4 separate regions of the Homo sapiens genome follow, and all the other regions are reported to be linked to region 2. Evidence: microRNA targets listed by miRTarBase, many of them from high-throughput screens and not tested one by one. Region 2 holds a microRNA gene; each other region holds the end of a gene's coding sequence. Distances are between the middles of the regions.

Evidence for each region. The annotated mature microRNA hsa-miR-6889-5p reads UCGGGGAGUCUGGGGUCCGGAAU and lies in region 2 at 3,289-3,311, opposite strand. An mRNA with a match to its seed (bases 2 to 7 or 8) in the 3' UTR can be bound and repressed. Matches are read on the target gene's strand: a 7mer-m8 pairs with bases 2 to 8, a 7mer-A1 pairs with bases 2 to 7 and ends in A, and an 8mer does both.
Region 1: miRTarBase lists EMID1 as a target of hsa-miR-6889-5p. Seed matches in the 3' UTR shown: 8mer at 918-925.
Region 3: miRTarBase lists HCFC1 as a target of hsa-miR-6889-5p. Seed matches in the 3' UTR shown: 7mer-m8 at 4,336-4,342.
Region 4: the mRNA of ZCCHC3 is a reported target of hsa-miR-6889-5p. Seed matches in the 3' UTR shown: 7mer-m8 at 1,288-1,294.

The regions. Positions count from the first base shown.
Region 1 is chr22:29,258,403-29,263,460 of GRCh38, forward strand. It overlaps EMID1 (EMI domain containing 1), which reads left to right. Exons shown (of 15, transcript NM_133455.4): 15 at 415-1,195. The coding sequence ends at 542. It overlaps RHBDD3 (rhomboid domain containing 3), which reads right to left. Exons shown (of 7, transcript NM_012265.3): 5 at 2,300-2,462; 6 at 1,924-2,211; 7 at 1,470-1,835. The coding sequence ends at 1,658. Among named protein-coding and RNA genes, the nearest start is that of RHBDD3, 7.0 kb to the right of the region's middle. RefSeq lists enhancers at 1,194-2,048, 2,049-2,902.
Region 2 is chr22:41,249,735-41,254,803 of GRCh38, forward strand. It overlaps MIR6889 (microRNA 6889), which reads right to left and starts at 3,316; the gene lies at 3,258-3,316. RANGAP1 (Ran GTPase activating protein 1) reads right to left here. Exons shown (of 16, transcript NM_002883.4): 11 at 4,574-4,760; 12 at 3,138-3,257; 13 at 1,273-1,375; 14 at 1-83.
Region 3 is chrX:153,944,762-153,949,819 of GRCh38, forward strand. HCFC1 (host cell factor C1) reads right to left here. Exons shown (of 26, transcript NM_005334.3): 25 at 4,792-4,855; 26 at 2,796-4,625. The coding sequence ends at 4,586. Among named protein-coding and RNA genes, the nearest start is that of RENBP, 2.6 kb to the left of the region's middle. RefSeq lists enhancers at 34-797, 2,964-3,503 and a silencer at 65-124.
Region 4 is chr20:297,832-302,889 of GRCh38, forward strand. It overlaps ZCCHC3 (zinc finger CCHC-type containing 3), which reads left to right. Exons shown (of 1, transcript NM_033089.7): 1 at 1-2,490. The coding sequence ends at 967. Among named protein-coding and RNA genes, the nearest start is that of ZCCHC3, 2.8 kb to the left of the region's middle. RefSeq lists silencers at 113-182, 3,374-3,668.

The DNA of each region.
Region 1 (5,058 bases), 12 Mb from region 2:
CAACTGGTGGCCTAGCCCATGTCTGTTCCCTGGCCTCAGTTTACCCAGCTACCAAATGGGGATGACTCAGGGCACACCTCCACCCCAAAATGAATAGAAAAAGAAGCAGCCTTTCTATGAAGCATTCACTGCATCTAAACACTTCCTAAAGGAGGTGGGTGTGGTTATCCCCACCTGACAAAGCAGGAAGCAGAGGCCCTGAGTGCTCTCCTTGGGCTGGGGGGCTGGTAAGTCCTGGCGTGAGGCACCAACCAATCTGCAGACCCCCTTTCCCACAGCTCTGCAGCCAGATACCAGGGTGGATTATACCTGGCAGAGCGTGCCCGGTTCTGCCACCCCCTAGAGGGCCAAGGGGAGGTGGGCACCTCACATGAACCCCTCTAATGTGGCCTCTCTCCTTCTTCCCTCCGGCAGAACCAGAGCTGGGGTCTGGGGCGGGCCCTGCCGGCACAGGCACCCCCAGCCTCCTTCGGGGCAAGAGGGGCGGACATGCAACCAACTACCGGATCGTGGCCCCCAGGAGCCGGGACGAGAGAGGCTGAGGGTGGTGGCGGCCCCTGAGGCAGACCAGGCCAGGCTTCCCCTCCTACCTGGACTCGGCCAGCTGCCTCCAGGGACCGCCCGTCCATATTTATTAATGTCCTCAGGGTCCCTTCTGCCATCTAGGCCTTAGGGGTAAGCAGGTCTCAGTCCTGGCACCATGCACATGTCTGAGGCTGAGCAAGGGCTGAGAGGAGAGGCTTGGGCCTCAGTTTCCCTCTGTGAAGTGGGGGGAGGCAGGCCTTCAAGGAGGGATAGAGGTACAAGGCTTCGTCTCATCTGCTGTCTGAGCATCCAGGCCCAAAGGCACTGAGGGAGTCAGGAGCTGGGGCTCGGCACATGCAGAGATGACAGGGCAGGGGGCAGTCTTCCTCCCCCTCCCCGACCAAACCTCGGGGAGCCCTCCTGTGCCCCTCCCTCCTTGTTGTCCAGTGCTGGGCTCCCCACCCCGAGGTCAGGCTGCCCAATCCTCTGACTGGATCACCGGGGGCTTCTTGCCTCAGTTCTTCCCTCTGAGCCCCCAGGCCCTCCCGCATCTCAGGTTGGGGATGGGGACATGGAGAGGAAGGGGCCGCCTACTCCTGCAAATGCTTGTGACAGATGCCAGGAGGTAGATGTGTGCTGGCCAATAAAGGCCCCTACCTGATTCCCCGCAGCTTGGTCTCAGTGTGTGCTTAGATGGGGGCAGCTGGGAATGAGGCTACGACGGAGAGGGCTAGAAATGGGCGGTGGAGAATGCTCTGTGCTGGAGGACAGAGCCTCCTGGAGGTATAGGCTGCAAGGTGCAGGGCCAGGAAGCCTGTGTCTCTGGACATCAGGGAACAGCTCTCCCACAACTGGTCATTCATTTGGTGCTCACTCATTCATTCATCCCCCTGATGCCAACACAGAAGAGTCAAACACAACTGCTGCCTCCAAGGAGGTCCAGGTTGAAAAACAAACTGGTTTTTATTCTAAACACGTACTAGGGCAGCATGCTGGGGGGCCTCTCCTGCCTCCAGAGGTGCCCCTGCTCCCCACTGTGGCCCTCTTTAGACAGAGTAGGAGCTCGGGCTACCCACATGCAGCCCAGCCCTTAGCACCCAAGGGCCTGCCTGTGCCCCACTCTCTGCCTGGGCTAGGGAGGCCCAGGACCCTCGGAGTGGGCAGGCCCACCCTTTCCATGGGTCACCAGGGTCTCAGTGCCCACTTGTCCTCCAACCAACAGTGACACGGCACCCTCCACACGGCCTGTGGCTGCCAGTGCCACCACCGCCTGCTCCGTAGGGAAGCCCATGCGCTCCAGCTGCTGCAGCCTGTTGGGGGTGGGGGGAGAAGTGGGGAGTGTCAGGGCCACCCCGGCCCCTATACCAGGGGACCCCACCTCTGCCCACCCCACCTTACCGCAGAGAGGAGACAGAGGACTTGGACAGCCATGGTGCGCTCTGGGGTTCCTGGGCTGGCCCGTCAAGAAGCGAGGCCTGGATGCCCTCCTGCAGCATCTGCTCATCCAAGGCCGCCCACATCGGAGTCCCTGGGGAGAAGCTGGCCCCAGCCCAGTCCAGGCCTGCCTCTGAGGAGCCCTCCCAGGTGGGCTGCACAGGCCTCAGGCTTGGTGGGGGCAGGGCTGAGTCTTCCCAGTGGGACCAGAGGTCAGGGGAGGCCACATAAGGCGGTCCAGGGATGGGAGGCCTGGAGGAGTGGGAAGAGAAGAGGGCCTGACTGGCAGCCCTGCCACAGTGCCCACCACCTGGACTGGCATCCCCCCCATCACCCTCACCTCACTCCGGCAGGATGGGTGACAGGCAGCTCCGCCAGGCTACCCGGGGTGGCAAGGAGCCTCAGGGGCCAGCACCCCGCCAAGGTCCTGCACAAGACGCCCTCCTGCAGCACCTGCAGCCGTCGCTCTGAGGGTTCCAGCCACCGGAAGGCCCCAGCTGCATCTGTCTGCCCGGGGCAGGGCGGCCGGTCAAGGAAAACCAAAAGCAGCCAGGGGTGGGCCCACGCCACAGGCCAGGCCCCATGCCAAGTGTGCTGGCCACCATTCCCTCCCGTCTCCTCACTGTGGACCAGCATGGAATAGCGTCACCCTGGTCAGCAGCAGAGGCTCAGAAAGGAAAAGGGATCTGCCTGAAGCTACTCAGCCAAACAGAGCCAGGTATGCCTCACCCCAAGGCCTGGGCTCACCCGTGACCCACTCTGTTCCCAGAACCCTATGCACCTTTTCAGGTCTGTAACTCAAGACCCACCCGTCCTGGAAGAAGTCCCATGGACACACCTGCTATTGCCTTCAGACAGGCCTGGATAACTCCTGTCACCAATCCAGAGTGCAGAGGCCAGCCTGTTCTCTCCAGTGGCACTGTTTTCCCCGATAGGTATGAATCATCTTAGGGCTGGACGCAGTGGCTCACAGCTGTATAATCCCAGCACTTGGGGAGGCTGAGACGGGAGGATCACTTGAGGCCAGGAGTTCAAGACCAGCCTGGGCAACATAGACCCCGTCTCTACAAAAAATTTTTAAAATTAGCTGGACGTGGCAGTGCACACCTGTAATCTCAGCTACTCAAGTGGCTGAGGCAAGAGGATCGCTTGAGCCCAGGAGTTTGAGGCTGTAGTGAGCTATGATGGCGTCGCCACACTCCAGCTTGGGTGACAGAATGAGACCCTGTCTCTAAAAATTAAAAAAAAAATCTCAGAAGCAGAACACCAATAAAGAGTGCTCTAGCACGACTTATTTATTTATTTATTTTTGAGACAGAGTCTCACTCTGTCACCCAGGCTGATATGCAGTGGTGAAATCTCGGCTCACTGCAACCTCCAACTCCGAGGTTCAAGCAATTCTCCTGCCTCAGCTTCCCGAATAGATGGGATTACAGGCACGTGCCATCACACCTGGCTAATTATTTTGTATTCTTAGTACAGGGTTTCACCATGTTGGCTAGGCTGGTCTCAAACTCCTGGCCTCAAGAAATCGGCCCACCTCAGCCTCCCAAAGTGCTAGGATTACAGGCGTGAGCCACTGCACCCAGCCTCTAGCACCATTTATTAAAAAGAATATTCTTTTCCTCATTGAATCGACTTGGCACTCTTGTCAAAATAAATTGACTATACAGTAAATCTAACAGTTTATTTCTAGATGGTCAATTCTAGTCCATTGATCTGTATGTCTATCCTGATGCCAGTACCACAATATCTTGATTATTATAATTTTGTACGGCTTTTTTTTTTTTTTTTTTTTGGAGAGAGTCTTGCTCTGTCGCCCAGGCTGGAGGGCAGTGGTGCAATCTCAGCTCACTGCAACCTCTCTCCTGGGTTCCAGCAATTCTCCTGCCTCAGCCTCCTGAGCAGCTGGGATTACAGGCGTGTGCCACCACACCTGGCTAATTTTTGTATTTTTAGTAGAGATGGGGTTTCACCATGTTGGCCACGCTGGTCCTGAACTCCTGACCTCAAGTGATCTGTCTGCCTCGGCCTCTCAAAGTGCTGGGATTACAGGTGTGAGCCACCGCACCTGGCCACTTTTGTAGTTTTAAGTTTTGAAATTGAAAAGTGTAAGTCTTCCAGGTTTGCTTTTCTTTTTCAAGATTATCTGAGGTATTCTGGGTTCTTTACATTTCCATATTATTTTTAGGACCAGCTTGCTAATTTCTGCAACAACAACAAAGACAGCTGAGATTTTGATAAGAATTGTGTGGGATCTATAAATCAACTGAGTAGCATTACCATTTTAACAATATTAAGTATTCCAATCCGTGAACATGAGATCTTTCCATTCACTTAGGCTTTTAATTTTCTTTTTTTTTGAGAGGAAGTCTCGCTCTCTCGCCCAGGCTGGAGTGCAGCAGCGCTATCTTGGCTCACTGCAGCCTCTGCCTCTCGGATTCAAGCAATTCTCCTGTCTCAGTCTCCCAAGTAGCTGGGACTACAGGCGCCTGCCACCACGCCTGGCTAATTTTTGTTTTTTGGGGTTTGAGACCGGAGTCTCACCCTATCGCCCACGCTGGAGTGCAGTGGCATGTTCTCGGCTCATTGCAGCCTCTGCCTCACAGGTTCAAGTGATTCTCCTGTCTCAGTCTCCCAAGTAGCTGGGACTATAGGCGCCTGCCACCACGCCTGGCTAATTTTTGTTTTTTGGGGTTTGAGACCGGGGTCTTGCCCTGTCGCCCAGGCTGGAGTGCAGTGGCATGTTCTCGGCTCATTGCAGCCTCTGCCTCACAGGTTCAAGTGATTCTCCTGCCTCAGTCTCCTAAGTAGCTGGGATTACAGGTGCACGCCACCACGCCCAGCTAATTTTTGTATTTTTAGTAGAGATGGGGTTTTACCATGTTGGCCAGGCTAGTCTCGAACTCCTGACCTCGTGATCCGCCCACCTTGGCCTCCCAAAGTGTTGGGATTACAGGCATGAGCCATCGCGCCTGGCCTAATTTTTTTATTTTTAGTACAGATGGGGTTTCACCATGTTGGCCAGGCTGGTCTTGAACTCCAGACCTCAAGTGATCTGCCCGCCTGGCCTCCCAAAGTGCTGGGGTTACAGGCGTG
Region 2 (5,069 bases):
CAGACCCATGTGCACGAGCAGCCTGGTGAGGAAGGTGTTGGAGTTGAAGGACGAGGAGTTGAAAGCCTTCTGCATCAGGGCATCTGTAGGGCAGAAGCAGCAGGGGCAGGCTGCTGGCTATGGCAGAGGGCTGGGCCAAGGCACCCAGGGTTCCCCCAACACCGCGCAGACACAGGCTCGCCTGCCTCCTCGCCCTGACGAAGAGGCGAACACGAGAGGGACGGCAGAGACACAGGAACCAGAGGGAGTGGCAGTTGGCATCAGGGGATGGGCTCAGTCCATCTGCCAGCTGTGACACTCTGGCCCTTGCCCATCCTGGCCTCAGGTATAAAATGGGCATGGGGATGACACCCACTGTGCCCACCTCACACCGTGGGAATGGAGATTTCCTGAGGCAGGCTACCACTGGGGAGGATTCAGGTTATTTTGGCAGGGTGAGGGGATGTGCAGGGACTGTGCTAGGCTTCCTGGGAAACAGAACTAGGGCAACTTGTTCCCAAAAATGCCCACAGGCGGGCCCTCAGGGAGCAGGCTTGTGTCTGGCCCCCACCTCCTTCCGAGCCTCATTTCCCACTGAGCCGCCCTCCCCGCTTCGACGCCACGCCGGGAAGAGGCACCACATGTCCTTCCACCCCTTTCTATCTTTTCCAGGAACCGTCCCCCTCGCCTCAGGGCCCTTCCTCCCCTCTGCCTAACCGGAACTGGCTCAGGTTTCGTTAGATGTGGAGGCTCAGTCAAGCACATGGAAACAGGGTGGAAGGTGACAGGTGCTGGAATGGAGGAAACAGACAGGGTGGGGAGAGGGTTGTGATAGGGCTGGAGGGATATGGGCTGGTGCTCCAAGGAAGCCCCCATAATGTTATGGGGAAAGGTGTCCTCTGTGCAAGGAACCTCCAGGTAGAGTGGACGTGAGCACAGAAGCTCCAAGGTGTGGACAAGGGCTTGGCTCTCACCATCCCTCCTCCCGATAGACCTGCGTCCATTGGGCTTGCAGATGTGACTATCTGGACTTCCTAGAGCGGGCTATGGGTTCTAACTGTACATGGCTGTGTGGATTTGGGAAAGGCCTCAGTTTCTCAGTGGTGAAAAACAGGGAGAAGAGCAGCCAGCTGGCTCCACGGCAGGACCCTGACGGAGGAAAAACTCAGGTGGCCAAAGAGCAGTTCCCATGAGAGCGCTGGGGCTGACGAGTTACGGCAACCACGAAGGATACCTGGGGCCCACGAGCATCAAGGGACAGAGGGCACCCAGGTCTCACCCAGCCCACATTACCTACTGCATCCTGCACTGCCATCCTCACAGTAGCTTCGTCCTTGAACACAGATGACACCTTTAGGAAGGCAGAGACCACCTTCTCGGGGTCAGACGTGTCAGTCTGAGGACAAAAGAGACAATGGTTGGCCTGTGGCACGTGGTGGAGAGGTACCTGGGCTCTGACGCTAGCTAGGAGAGGCCTGGGCAGTACAAAGGCCCCTGGCGGGCAAGAACAGGTCCTGCCTTACCCCATGCTGTCCCTTCAGAGTCTGGCTTGGATTTGGCCTGCAGCAAGCACATATGCAGCATAGAGAGGGAATGAATGAGTGAATGAACAAGGATGAAAAATCATCCCAGCCGGGTGTGGCGGCTCATGCCTGTAACCCCAGCACTTTGGGAGGCTGAGGTGGGAGGATGGCTTGAGGCGAAAAGTCTGAGACCAGCCTAGGCAACATAGCAAGACCCCATGTCAACAAAAAGGAAAAAAATTAGCCAAGGTTGGTGGTGTGTGCCTATAGTCTCAGCTACTTGGGAGGCTGAGGCAGGAGGACTGCTTGAGCCCAGGAGGTCGAGGTTGCACTGAGCCATGATTGCACCACTGCACTCCAGCCGGAGTCACAAAGCAAAACATTGTCTCAGAAAAAAAAAAAAAAAAATCATTTCAGGGATCCAGTGGTCCCCATCTTGTAATTGAACTTGAAGAAATAATCTAGCATGTAGACAATACTCACATGCAGAAACGTTTACCTCAACCTCACAACAGGGAAAAGTGGAAAAAACGTCAGAAACAGTGCCTGGCTTTTAAGTGCTACATCCACACATTGCAATAAAAATCCTGAGAAGAGTTTTATGGGCACAAGAAAGTGATGAATGGTGCTACACCAAAGTGATAGGCCACAGAAAGGCTTACAACATCTGATTTATCATGTTAAAAGAAACAAAGAATACAGGCAAAACCTAACAAAGCAATTGGCCGAAATGTTAAGCCAACTCTGAGAGTGGGCCCATTTTATTTCTCTGTAACCTCCGAGCCTCCGCTTTCTTATCTACAAAATAAGGGCTGGCCGGGCACGGTGGCTCATGCCTGTAACCCTAGCACTTTGGGAGGCCGAGGTGGGTGGATCATGAGGTCAGGAGTTTGAGACCAGCCTGGCCAACGTGGTGAAACCTCGTCTCTACTAAAAAATACAAAAATTAGCTGGGCGCGGGAGGCTGAGGCAGGAGAATTGCTTGAACCCAGGAGGCAGAGTCTGCAGTGAGCCGAGATCGTGCCACTGCACTCCAGCCTGGGCGACAGAGTGAGACTCCATCTCAAAAAAATAAATAAATAAATAAATAATAAAATAAAGTAAGGGCAGCAGAGTCTACATTTCATGTTGCCAAGAGGGTTAAATAAAATCATGCCCAAATGCAGTGCCTGGCAGAAAATGGATGCCCCGAAGATCATCTATGAATGAATGAATGAGCCAACCAACAAGTGAGGCTGGAGTGAGGGCACCCATCCTGCAATAGGCACGTCACTTCCAAAGGAGCCCTGGGCAACAGAGTTGTTCTCGAAGCAGCTGGGCTGACGGAACACGCAGAGAGAAGCCAAGGAGGGGGTGGGCACATGCAAGGCTCTTAAGGAAATTCCCTAACCCCAGTCAGCATGGGAACTGGCGGGCTGTACTTTCTGTAGGCTGAGTGGGGAGGGAACATTTGCAACCCCTGGAGGCTTATAAATACCCTGGACATTTGCGCGTGTTGTAACAGTGGCAGGCCAAGCCTCCCTGCCCCCAGCTGACAGCGTCGCACCCCCAGGTCTCTGAGCTGTTCGTCCCTTTTCTCTAACAGCTCCAGAAGCCACAGCACGTACAGCGTGGGGGTCGAGGGGTGGTTATTACCTGCTGGGCTATCAGCACGGAGCTCTTGGGCCCTAGGCGCAGCAGCTTCTCTGGAGAGGGAAAAGCCAGGAAGGTGGAGACGTCTGCAGGAGGTGGGGAGGACAGCACGGGAGCTGGCTCCTGGGAAGTAGGGGCACAGAGGCTCTGGAGAATTCCGGACCCCAGACTCCCCGACACAGCTGTGCCCATCCCCACACCCAGCACATCCACCCTTCACTCCAGCCCATCTAGGCTCAAAGTCTAGAATTCTTCCTCCCACTCAGCTGCATTTCCCATCTATCAATATCACCCAGAGATGCTGGCCCTGGATGGCTCTTGGTCCAGGAGCCTTTGGGGTGAGGGGGAAGCTACCTCCCTGGGACTCAAAAAACCTGCTACGGCCAAGTGGATCCTCGTCATGACATGCAGTGCCCCAGAAATGACTACGGAGGCACATGGGGGCTAAAGTGGGTCCCCGTAGAACTACAGTCCAGCCTGGGTAAGCCCTGCTAGCACCAGAGGTGCCCAGAGGAAAAACTGAATTGAGGCGAACCTAGCCATTTGTTTAATTGATTCCATAAACCAGAGAAGCAGCCCAATTCAGCGTAAGCATGGGGAGTCCTTGTCCAGAGCCAAGTTCTCCAGGAGCTTTACTTAGGAACCTGACAGGGAATGCAAATGAATGAACTGGAGGTGTGGCAGCCCTGATGCAGCCCCGGGCCAGACAAGGGACACCAAGTGCCCAAGCCAGGTCATGGCCCAGCCACCATCCCAGGAATGGGGGAGTGGTTCCTAAGGGTCACCAAGACAATCCTCTGGTGGGTGGGGAAAAAAAAAATCAGAATTTCTATTTATGCTTATTTGTTTATTCTTTCAGAAACCCTTATGCATATCTTATAATATACATAATGCAGCAGCACTGCTACCTGTAAATAGACATTTATATTGGGGTAAATAGAAATATAGGTAACTATGGCTGGGCCCGGTGGCTCAATGCCTGTAATCCCAGCACTTTGGGAGGTCGAGGAGGGTGGATCACCTGAGGTCAGAAGTTCAAGACCAGCCTGGCCAATATGGCGAAACCCCGGCTCTACTAAAGATACAAAAATTAGCCAGGCGTGGTGGCAAGCATCTGTAATCCCAGCTGTTTGGGAGGCTGAGGCATAAGAATCACTTGAACCCGGGAGGCAGAGGTTGCAGTGAGCCGAGATCACACCACTGCACTCCAGCCTGGGTGACAAGAGTGAGACTCCATCTCAAAAAAAAAAAAAAGAAATATAGGTAACTATCATTACACTGGGACCATTTTCCTTTTTTTACTCAATATCATGCAATCAAAAAAAAATGTTTGTGGCTACTGTGCTTAAGGAGACACCCCCTACCCCATTGTGAAAGTGCCTCGGGATTTCACGTTCTCAGGACCAGGGCTCTGATTGTGGCAGATGATAGAAACTCACCCCAGTGTTAGGGTCCAGAATCTTCCGTGAGGGCGTGGCTGACTTCTCTCCCTGCCCTCGCTGCTGAGGCTCTTCTTCCTCCTCCTCCTCCTCTTCTTCCTCCTCTTCCTCATCTTCCTCCTCCTCTTCTTCTGCTTCCTCTTCTTCCTCTTCTCCTTCCTCCTCCTCCTCCTCGTCCTCGTCATCACTGCAGAAAGAGCTGGCTGAAGCAGATCCTCTCTACCCAGCAGCCCAGGTTGGCTCTAAGGCCTGGCTCCATGAGCCCAGAGACCTCACCTCAGCCAGGAGGGAGAGAGCCTGGTGGGGTGGGAGCACCTGCTCCCAGGGCAGGGGCAGGTGGATCACCAGGGAAATCCATGCTGTGGACACAAAAAAATAAGATCGGCCCGGCGCGGTGGCTCATGCCTGTAATCCCAGCACTTTGGGAGGCCGAGGTGGGTGGATCATGAGGTCAGGAGATCGAGACCATCCTGGCTAACGTGGTGAAACCCCGTCT
Region 3 (5,058 bases), not on the chromosome of region 2:
TCCTGCCGCGACCCTCCACTCGAATGGGCCAGTCCCTCCAGGGCCCCTGCTGGGAGCTCTGGTCTCAAGATCCTGCTTGGTGGGAAAAGCTGGGATGGCCGGAGGGTCTGGGATGAGGGGGAACGGGGCTGCCACCCACCCCGCCCTACACCAGGGGCCCCGGCAGGGCGGCTGAGGGCCTTGGCCCTACCAAGCCTGTGGGGCAGGGGTGCAGCAGGACAGGGAACAGCTAGTGGGCCTGAATGCAGAGGTCCCTCTGACCTGTCACCACACAGGGTAGACAGGAGGCAAGTTCTGTTTTTGTTGTTGTTGTTGTTGTTTGTTTCTTTGTTTTTTGAGACAGTGTCCTGTCGCCCAGGCAGCTCACTGCAGCCTTGACCTGCCAGGCTCAAGCGATCCTCCCACCTCAGCCTCCTGAGTAGGTGGGACCACAGGTGTGGGCCACCATGCCTGGCTAATTTTTGTATTTTTAGTGGAGACAGGGTTTTGCAATGTTGCCCAGGCTGGTCTCGAACTCCTAAGCTCAAGCGATCCTCCTGCGTCAGCCTCCCAAAGTGCTGGGATTACAGGCGTGAGCCACCGCACCCAGCCTAGCAAGTCCTCTCTTTTGAATCAGTTTGTCACCAACTACCTCAACAGTCAGTAATGGGCAGCCATTGGCGCTAATTTTTTTTTTTTTTTTCCCAAGATGGGGTCTTGCTCTGTCGCCCAGGCTGGAGTGCAGTGGCATGATCTTGGCTCACTATAACCTCCGCTTCCCGGGTTTAAGCAATTCTCCTGCCTCGGCCTCTGGAGTAGCTGGGATTACAGGTGCCTGCCACCATGCCTAGCTAATTTTTTTTTTTTTTTTTTTTTTTTTTTTAGTAGACGGTTTTTCACCATGTTGGCCAGGCTGGTCTCAAATTCTTGACCTCGTGATCCACCTGCCTCGGCCTCCCAAAGTGTTGGTATTACAGGTGTGAGCCACCGCGCTCGGCCTTGGCACTGACTTCTTTACACAAGTGACACAGCTCTAAGGCCAGACAGTAACTGCAGGTAACAGCCCACACCCCCCTTCTCTGGGCCTGTTTTCCAGCTGCCCAGATCTGTCTGTAGCTCTATGACTGACCCGATGATGCTACAAGGCAGCTGGGCTGAGGTGGTTCCTACCTTCCAGGCCAACAGTGCACAAAATGGGTTCCAGCCTCTGGGCGTGGGTACTGCACTGCTGGTCTTTGATGCCACAGTGGCTGTCTCAGTCCCTGCTGCAGGCTGACCCACCCAACCCCAAACAGTTCCCCTTTGGGGTGCTTGGTAATGAGGCTGATGCCCTGGCAGCTGGGGAGGCATCCTCTGTGTGCTCCCACCCACCCTCGGCCTCGGCTCATGCTCAGGGGATGAGCTTTGTGCCCAGCCGGGCTGTATCTACCTGCCCTGCTCACAGGCCTGTCATGTTCACATTCATGTCCAGCCTCCCTCCTGCCTCCCCAGACTGAGTGGTGCCCTCAGACGGAAACGCGGTATTTTCAGATAAACACCAGAGGCATGACTGATGTGGCCCTTGCCTTGTGGAGTGTGATGCAGCCGCGGTGAGACAAGTGAGCTGAAGGAATGCGGAGGGTGGGTAGCCCCACAGGTGCCAGCTACAGAAGTGGGGTAGGAAGAAGCCTTGTACCACCCCCACCAGGCGAAGCGCCCACAACGCCATTTGCCAAAGGTATGGCAAATCCGCAAGGCCCCTCGGTTCTGGGGCCAGCCCCATGTGGCCCCTGGCCTCCACCAGCCCCAGCCATGACTCCTACCGCTCTGCTCTGAAGGACACTTTCCCACCCCTCTCCTTGGGCCTCTGCGAGGCTAGGCTCCAAGGCAGGTCACAGTTGGTGCGGTGGGTAAGACAGAGCCATGGCTCCTGGTGTCAAGCCCTGGCCAGTCTGCTTCCCCCCACCCCCACATGACACAGCAGACCCCACAGGACAGAGGCTTCCCAGAAGAGGTCGCATTCGACAGGGCCTTGCACACACACCCATGCCACAGGTGGAGACACGGAGGCTTTGGTTACTCCAGGAGCTTCTGGTAGCGGAGTGCCTGGGTGCTCTGAGAGGAAGGCTGGGCAGTAGAGGTGTGTAGGGGAAACAAAGGCAGGCGGCAGGGGCTTGGAGGGGGCGGGGAATGCAGGTGCGCCAGGAGCACCAGGCCCCAGAAGCAGGGTGTCACTCCCCTCAGACCCGCCTAGGCCTGTGCTGCTCCGGCCACCTTGCCCCGGAGCTTTCTGGGCCTCCTGGTACAAATTCAGCCCACGGGATCCCAGCTGTCCTACCGACCCAGCTGCTAGGTGGTCAGTCTGGATCACAAGCTCTTGCTTCTTCCCCTTGGGGGCATGGCTCACATTTAAGAGGAAGCCAGAGGAAGGGATCCACCTCTGCAGTACCCGTGGTGTACTTGACTCAGCCCACCTCCCCCCAACCCACCCAAGGAGGCTGCCGCTGGTGACCTGCCAGGCCCTTGCCCCATCCTATCCTCTAGTGCAGGAGGGGAGGGAGGGAGATCTGGGCCCCAGACACAGGAAGTCAGCAGCAGCTGCCCAAGGGGCTCTTTGGCCCTTGCCCTGCAAGGCAGCTACCAAGCAACCTGCTGGACCCTGGTCCGACTTGGTCCAAAGACCGGAGGCCACAGCAGAGGCCTCACTCTGGGGCCTTCTACGCTTTCACCAGAGCTCAGGTCTCCCTCCAGGGGGCTCCCGTGAGCCTCGGGCAGGTCTCAGCCTTCCCGCTCAGGCTTCCTGAGAGGATGCCGGGACACAGTGAGACACCTAGTGGTTATTTCAAAAAAAGTCTTTTAATTGTTCAAAATAGCACAAAACGACATCGCACTATGGTAATATTGAGTCACAGGGGTTACTCTACAATAGTGAACGGTGTACTCTCCTCAGAAACAAATCAATAGGCGCGCGAGAGAAGGGATGGGGTAAAACAACAGGACCAGGTGAGTGGGCTCCAAGGTGACTAAACGTGACATTTTCCACAGCGAAATATACTATAATACAACAAACCAGAGGCCCTGGAGGACACAGGCTGCTGCGTCTCCAGGCAGAGGTCGGTAGGGGAGGGCTGGAAAGATTGGCTGCTCGGTTCAAATCCTTCTGACTTGCTGGCAAGCCTTGCTCCTCGACAGAAGTTTGGGGTGGGGGGCAGAAAACTCCAAGCAGATCCCCCAGCCTCGGAGCCTGGCCTGAGTTCCATGCTGCACAGCTGCTGCTGGTGGCCTGCTCCATTGCCCTAGCCTCCCTTGTGGGTGACACTACACAGTCACCCTCCCAAGCTGCCTCCAAGGACGCCTGGTTCCCCTCCATTCTCCACCCTTTCCATGACGATTTGGGGGAGGTGGAGCAGTGGCTGCGGAAACCAGCAGCCCTGTTTGGGAGGCGGTGCCGGTGGTGCTCAGGGAGGGGGCATGGGGAGAGCTGGAAATCCAGGACAAGGAGGCCCCAGCCCTCCCTCAAGCTCCCCTAGGCTCGACCCTATAGATGCGGAGTGATCGCCCATGAGGAATGAGCTGTCCTTCCTTTGTTCCAGCGGCCTGAGGACAGGCAAAAGGGCAGAGGGCAGGGGCCAGCAACAGGAAGTTGGGCTGGGTGGCAAACAGCAGGCCCCTCGTGGCAGATTTCACACCTCTCCTGCCCTGGCTGGCCCCAGCTTTTCCTCCAGAAAGATCCCTGCCAAGAATTAGCCAAGAAGAAAAAAGTAAAAAAACAAAAACAAAACAAAACAAAACAAAAAAAAGAGAAAAGAAAAAAGATTACACATTCTGTACACAGCTAACAACAACAAAAAAGGGACAAAACCCCACACGCTAAAATTACAATGAAAGTGTGAACTTCACCAATTGCAACCTAAAAAACACAACAAATGCAGCAGTTGGCAGTGCGGCCTGCAGGGAGGTCTGCACAGGCGCTGCCCAGGCCGCCGCGGGGCTCCTTGCCCCTTTTTTCTTTTTCCTTCTTTTCTTTTTTAAAATGGGAAAGAAGAGGGGGAGGGTAGAAGAGGTGGGAGCACAAAGGCCTCTGAGAAAATGTGTAAGCTTCCTGTGGGGTCACTGAGCAGGGTGGGCCGGGGGAGCCTGAGGAAGGGAAGTTAGGTGACTGGAAACACAAGGGGAAGAAAAGAAAACAGAACCAGACACCCAGGCCAGGGTGCCAGGAAAGCCACTCTGGGGAGGGCCAAGAGGGACGCCTTTCCTCCCCTCCATGCCTGCCCCCGACCTGGCCCTCAGGAACGCACAGCCTTGGGAGGGCGGAGCTGGCTGTCCTCAGCTCCGCCTTCCCTCCCCGCAAAAGTCTCTCCCCAGGGTGGGCGGCAGCGGGGAGGAAAGGAAGCGCGCTCCTCTCTCTGCTTTCCCATCTGCCTCTGCTTCCTCCCAACAGCAATGGTAAAATGTGCTTTCTTTAGATTATTTTAAAAACAGAGAGAAAGAGAAAGGGGAGAGGAGTGAACAGCGGCTCGCGAGGGTGAAGTGCGAATGCTGGGACGGGGTGGGAGGGGTGGGCCCTGGCGGGTGTTCCTGAAGCAGGGGGGTCTGGAGAAGAATCCAGGGGCTAGTCAGCTTCCTCTCACTGACCATCGGCCTTAGATTTCTTTGGAGCAGATTTCCTTGGAAGGCAGAAAAAGGAAAGAGAAAGTTAGTGTGGGCCCTGCACCACTGGAGGCCCTGCTGGTGCAGGGCCGGTTAGGGGCCCCCAGTCATTTGACAAGAGGCTGAACCCAGCTATTTCCACCCCTAGTCTCAGAAGGTTCCCGAGAGGGGCTTCCTGCTTACATTTCTGGAGAGGACATGGGCCGCTTGTTGGCTGGCTTGGTGCCAGAGCTGTCTTTACTGGTTTCTGGAAGGAACGGGAGAGATGCGTGAGCAGCATTGTGACAGAACGAGAGCAAGGAACACATGCGCCCTGCCCGCCTGCAGAGTCTCTTGGTGCCACATGGCATGACCCGCAGCTGGCAAGGGTGGGGCGCCTGCCCTATGGGTGGTCACCTTTTACGCCACTCCTTGGGACCAGAACACGACACCACTCACTCCCCTCTGGAC
Region 4 (5,058 bases), not on the chromosome of region 2:
GGCGCCGGACCTCGGCGACTTCCCACCGGCTGGCCGCGGGGATCCGAAGGGCCGTCGGAGAGATCCGGCCGGCGAGGCGGTGGACCCCCGCAAAAAGAAGGGCGCTGCGGAGGCGGGCAGGAGGAAGAAGGCCGAGGCGGCGGCGGCCGCCATGGCGACCCCGGCCAGGCCCGGCGAGGCCGAGGACGCGGCCGAGCGGCCCCTCCAGGATGAGCCGGCGGCGGCGGCAGGCCCGGGCAAGGGTCGCTTCCTCGTCCGCATCTGTTTCCAGGGAGACGAGGGCGCCTGCCCGACCCGGGACTTCGTGGTAGGAGCGCTTATCCTGCGCTCCATCGGCATGGACCCGAGCGACATCTACGCGGTCATCCAGATCCCGGGCAGCCGCGAATTCGACGTGAGCTTCCGCTCAGCGGAGAAGCTGGCCCTGTTCCTACGCGTCTACGAGGAGAAGCGGGAGCAGGAGGACTGCTGGGAGAACTTTGTGGTGCTGGGGCGGAGCAAGTCCAGCTTGAAGACGCTCTTCATCCTCTTCCGGAACGAGACGGTGGACGTGGAGGACATTGTGACTTGGCTCAAGCGCCACTGCGACGTGCTGGCCGTGCCGGTGAAAGTGACCGACAGGTTTGGGATCTGGACCGGGGAGTACAAATGCGAGATCGAGCTGCGCCAGGGGGAGGGCGGGGTCAGGCACTTGCCAGGGGCCTTCTTCCTGGGGGCCGAGAGGGGCTACAGCTGGTACAAGGGGCAGCCCAAGACATGCTTTAAATGTGGTTCCCGGACCCACATGAGCGGCAGCTGCACGCAGGACAGGTGCTTCAGGTGCGGGGAGGAGGGGCACCTGAGCCCTTACTGCCGGAAGGGCATCGTGTGCAACCTCTGTGGCAAGCGAGGACACGCCTTTGCCCAGTGTCCCAAAGCAGTGCACAATTCCGTGGCAGCTCAGCTAACCGGCGTGGCCGGGCACTAAACACCCGCCTGCCTGCCAGGGTGAACACACAGCCAGCTTATCCCTCTTAAGTGCCAAAACTTTTTTTTAAACCATTTTTTATCGTTTTTGAAGGAGATCTTTTTAAAACCTACAAGAGACATCTCTCTATGCCTTCTTAAACCGAGTTTACTCCATTTCAGCCTGTTCTGAATTGGTGACTCTGTCACCAATAACGACTGCGGAGAACTGTAGCGTGCAGATGTGTTGCCCCTCCCTTTTAAAATTTTATTTTCGTTTTTCTATTGGGTATTTGTTTTGTTTCTTGTACTTTTTCTCTCTCTCCTTGCCCCCCTCCCGCCCTCCCCGCCCCATACCTTTTCTTCCCCTGGATTTTCACCCTTTGGGCTGCCTTGCTCATCTTTATGCCCCAGCACTAGGTACGGGGCCCAACACGTGGTAGGCACTCCATCAGTGTTTGCTGAATTGAAAACATTGTTGACTGTGGCTTCTATCAGAGTGTCTACCTTTTGCAGCTCTTCCCCTCCCTCATTTAATTTGCTGCTTTTAATCTACGTGGTCTGAGAATTTGTGAAACCAGTGTTGTTAGAAGTGTATATAATCTGAATCAATAAGCTCTGAATGGTGGCCAAGGGCCTCTCTTATGGCACAAAGATGCATGGACTTCATGACAGCTCTTTTGGTGGCTCAGAAGCCATTTTTTATAGAATCATGGAATCTAGAATATTCCTGCTGGAAAGAACCTGAGAGTTGGTTTGGACCAATTCCCTGGTTTTCCAGCAGATGAAACAGGCCCAAAGAGGTTAAATGACTGGGTGAAAATCACATAGCTGTCTGGTGCCAGAGCCAGCCTATAGTAGAGTCCCCTGACCCCAAGCCCGGTGCTCATTCCACTACCTCTCACACTTCACAACAATTTCCTCAACACTTGAGGGCCCAGAAAGTCTGATCTCTCCAGAATGATCAGCCCAGAGGAATGCTGAGAAATCACCTGGAGGAGGGAGCAGAAAGAGAAGGTTTTTAAGGAGGGGCTTCTGAATACTTGGGAGATACGGAACGGACCAAGGACCACACTCCAGGGTGCATTCGTTGCTCCCTGGGGCACCACTTCTGGATTACAGTGTGCCAGGTCCTTTGGAGGCCCTACCCCTTCCCCATTCATTGCCACCAGTGAGAAATGGGGGTGCCCCTGTGTAAAGAAACCTACCAAAGGTTTACATTTGCACCTTAGCCTCAATAGCTACGAACCCTAGAGAAGCAGCTAGCTGGAGCTCATGTGCAACTCCTGATTCTCAGGAGAAAGATGGATTTTAACCCAAAATTATGAGTGAGCTGTTAACTCTAAAATGTACTTGGGAGATAGGCCAAGCGAGAGGTCATGGGCCAACTAAGTGTTATCCAGTAGAAAAGACAGTACACTGCTTTTCTTTTAGTGTTTGCTTTTCCTTTGCTATATGTTTTGCTATTTCCTTGTGGCTTAGAATGTAAAATTGATTGTTAAAAGTTTTGTTCTGAATAAATATTTATCTTTTGTATTGCTAAAACTGGTGCACTATTTCCTTTCAAAGTGTTAGATGCACAGTTACCCAGCTCCAGACCGTATTTCAATCCCACTTCCCCTACACTCCATTTGTTTACCTTGCTAAATACATTTCCCACCCCTGCAGGCAACACTTAGCACCTACTACGTTGTGCCGGTCCCTTTGCATCACAATCAGCACACTGTTAAAACGGGTTTTAAGTCCTAACACAGTTCCAATAAATCAGAATCACTGTTAGAGGAAGTGAAACATTTTAGTTAATCATCCTCAAGCAATTCTGATGGGCAGCCAGGTTTGAGACCAGAGTATAAGATGTGTGAGCTGAACCCTGCCCTCAGGGAGATTACAGACCTGTGGGAAAGAGAGGTGGTTTGCCAGCTTCCTCGTCTTTCTGTTACTGTAAGCGCGCGCTGTGGATGGGATGCAAAATATTCTTGGGTTCTGGGAAAATGCCATTTCTTCCAGCTGTTGAAAAAGCGGGATCCAGGGAGCTGACTTCTCCAAGTTAGCCCCCACTGGAGACTGGGCCTGCAGGCAGAATAGGGTCAAGGTCCCTGGACTTCAGGTCCAATACCCTGCAGACCCCAGATACAACTCTCTGAAGGATTTTCCAGCTGGTGATGCTAGGATGATCTGATCCTGAGAGTTAAACGTTCCCAGTATATTGACTCTGACTCAGTGATTTGAGGATATTTCCAGAGCTGATCTGGAGTTGGGACCTGGTAGGCTCTTGGGAATCCTGTCTTTCAGAGCCAGTTCAACCCCTCTCCTTGTCTCCCAAAGCAAGCAGACTCTCCCCTCCCTCCCATCCCTCTTTCCCGTCTTTGCCAGCGGTTTCCCTCCCTCTCACAGAGCTGGAGGCCAGGGGCCAGGAGAAAGCCTGCATTCACCATACTCTCCACTCCGTTCCTCAAAGCAGGCACTGTGCCAGGGAGCCTCCTTGAAGGAACCTTCCCTCTCCTGGCCCCATCCCCCCACTCTCCAGGAGGGAGGAGAGGAAGAAACTGTTTCCCTGCCCATCCCCCACAGGATCTGCTTCAAGGCCTCCTGCCTGGTGGCCCAGGGACAGCCAGGGGCTGGAGCTGAACAAACCTCCCCCAGCTTCCTTTCCTGATCAAGCAGCCCTCAAATTACAATTCTTCACTGTTTTTGGGCTCCTGGAAAGTGTGCAGAGATGCCCGGACTGAGGCTGGTTGACTAGGGGACATTGATTCATTCCACTTCAACAAATACGGAGGGCATTAGAGCTGGGCCCCATGCAAGGCCCTCTGCATAGGCTGCCTTGAACAAGACAGTGCACTTGCAATGGAAGGTACAGATAAGTAACAGTAGGCAATGTTTACAATCATATATTTAACAATTTTTTTTTGAGACAGAGTCTCACTCTGTTGCCCAGGCTGGAGTGCAGTGGCATGATCTTGGCTCACTGCAACCTCCACCTCCCGGATTCAAGCGATTCATGTGCCTGAGCCTTCCAAGTAGCTGGGATTACAGGCACGTGCCACCACGCCCGGCTAATTTTTGTATTTTTAGTGGAGATGGGGTTTCAGCATGTTGGCCAGGCTGGTCTCGAACTCCTGACCTCAGGTGATCCACCTGCCTCAGCCTCTGAAAGTGCTGGGATTACAGGCGTGAGACACCGCACCCAGCCAACATTTGTCCTGTATAGAATTGTCTGAAGTAAAGGTTTCCCTAGAAGAGAAAACGTCCTGACTGAAACCTGCAAGATGAGTAAGAACCAGGCTAAGAGTGAAGAGACAGCCAAGCAGCAGAAATAGCAGATGTAGAGGCCTGGAGGCCAGAGAGCACACAGCGTGTTCGGACTGGCCAAGAGTCAGGGGAAGATGTGGCTGGGAGAAAACGCCGAGAAGAGGTGTCACAGGGCTTACCAGCCATATTTAAAAACGTGGATTTTGTCCTCAGAGCCTCCAATCAGGCCTCCTCCATTCCATTCATTCTTTCAACACATGCCTGTTAAGCGCCAACTCTATAGGGGCCTTTTCTAAGCGATGGAACACAGCATGGAGCAGGATAATCAAGTCCCTGAAGCTCAGATTCTAGAGTCACACAAGTACATAATTACAGACGATGATGCACTAAAAGAAACATACAGGGTGAGATCCCTGTTTAACAAGCAAAGCTGATCCAGTCTTAAGGATCAGAGAAAATGTTTGAACTGAGATGGAAAAGACATAAAAGGAGTTAATCGAGAGATGGGGCTGGGGATTAAGGGATGGCAAGGGTATTAACCTAGGCAAGAGGGATAGCAAGTAAAACAACCCTATAGTGGGAGGAGGCATGACCACTTCTAGAGACTAAATGAATCAGTCTAAGTTTAGAAACAGAAACCACTCTTGCTGTTGAAGAAAATGCTGGTCCCTGGGCTGGGTATTAGGAATGACTCCTAGAACACCATAGAACTGCCAGGGGAGTTACTACCTCTCACAGTCAGAAAGACAGAAGCCAGGAGGCCACCACTGGAAAGGCTGAGCATGAGGACACAATGGTGAAGCTGCCACCCAAAGACAGGATCCTGGGATCAGAAAGTCACTGCCAATGCCACTGGCAGGA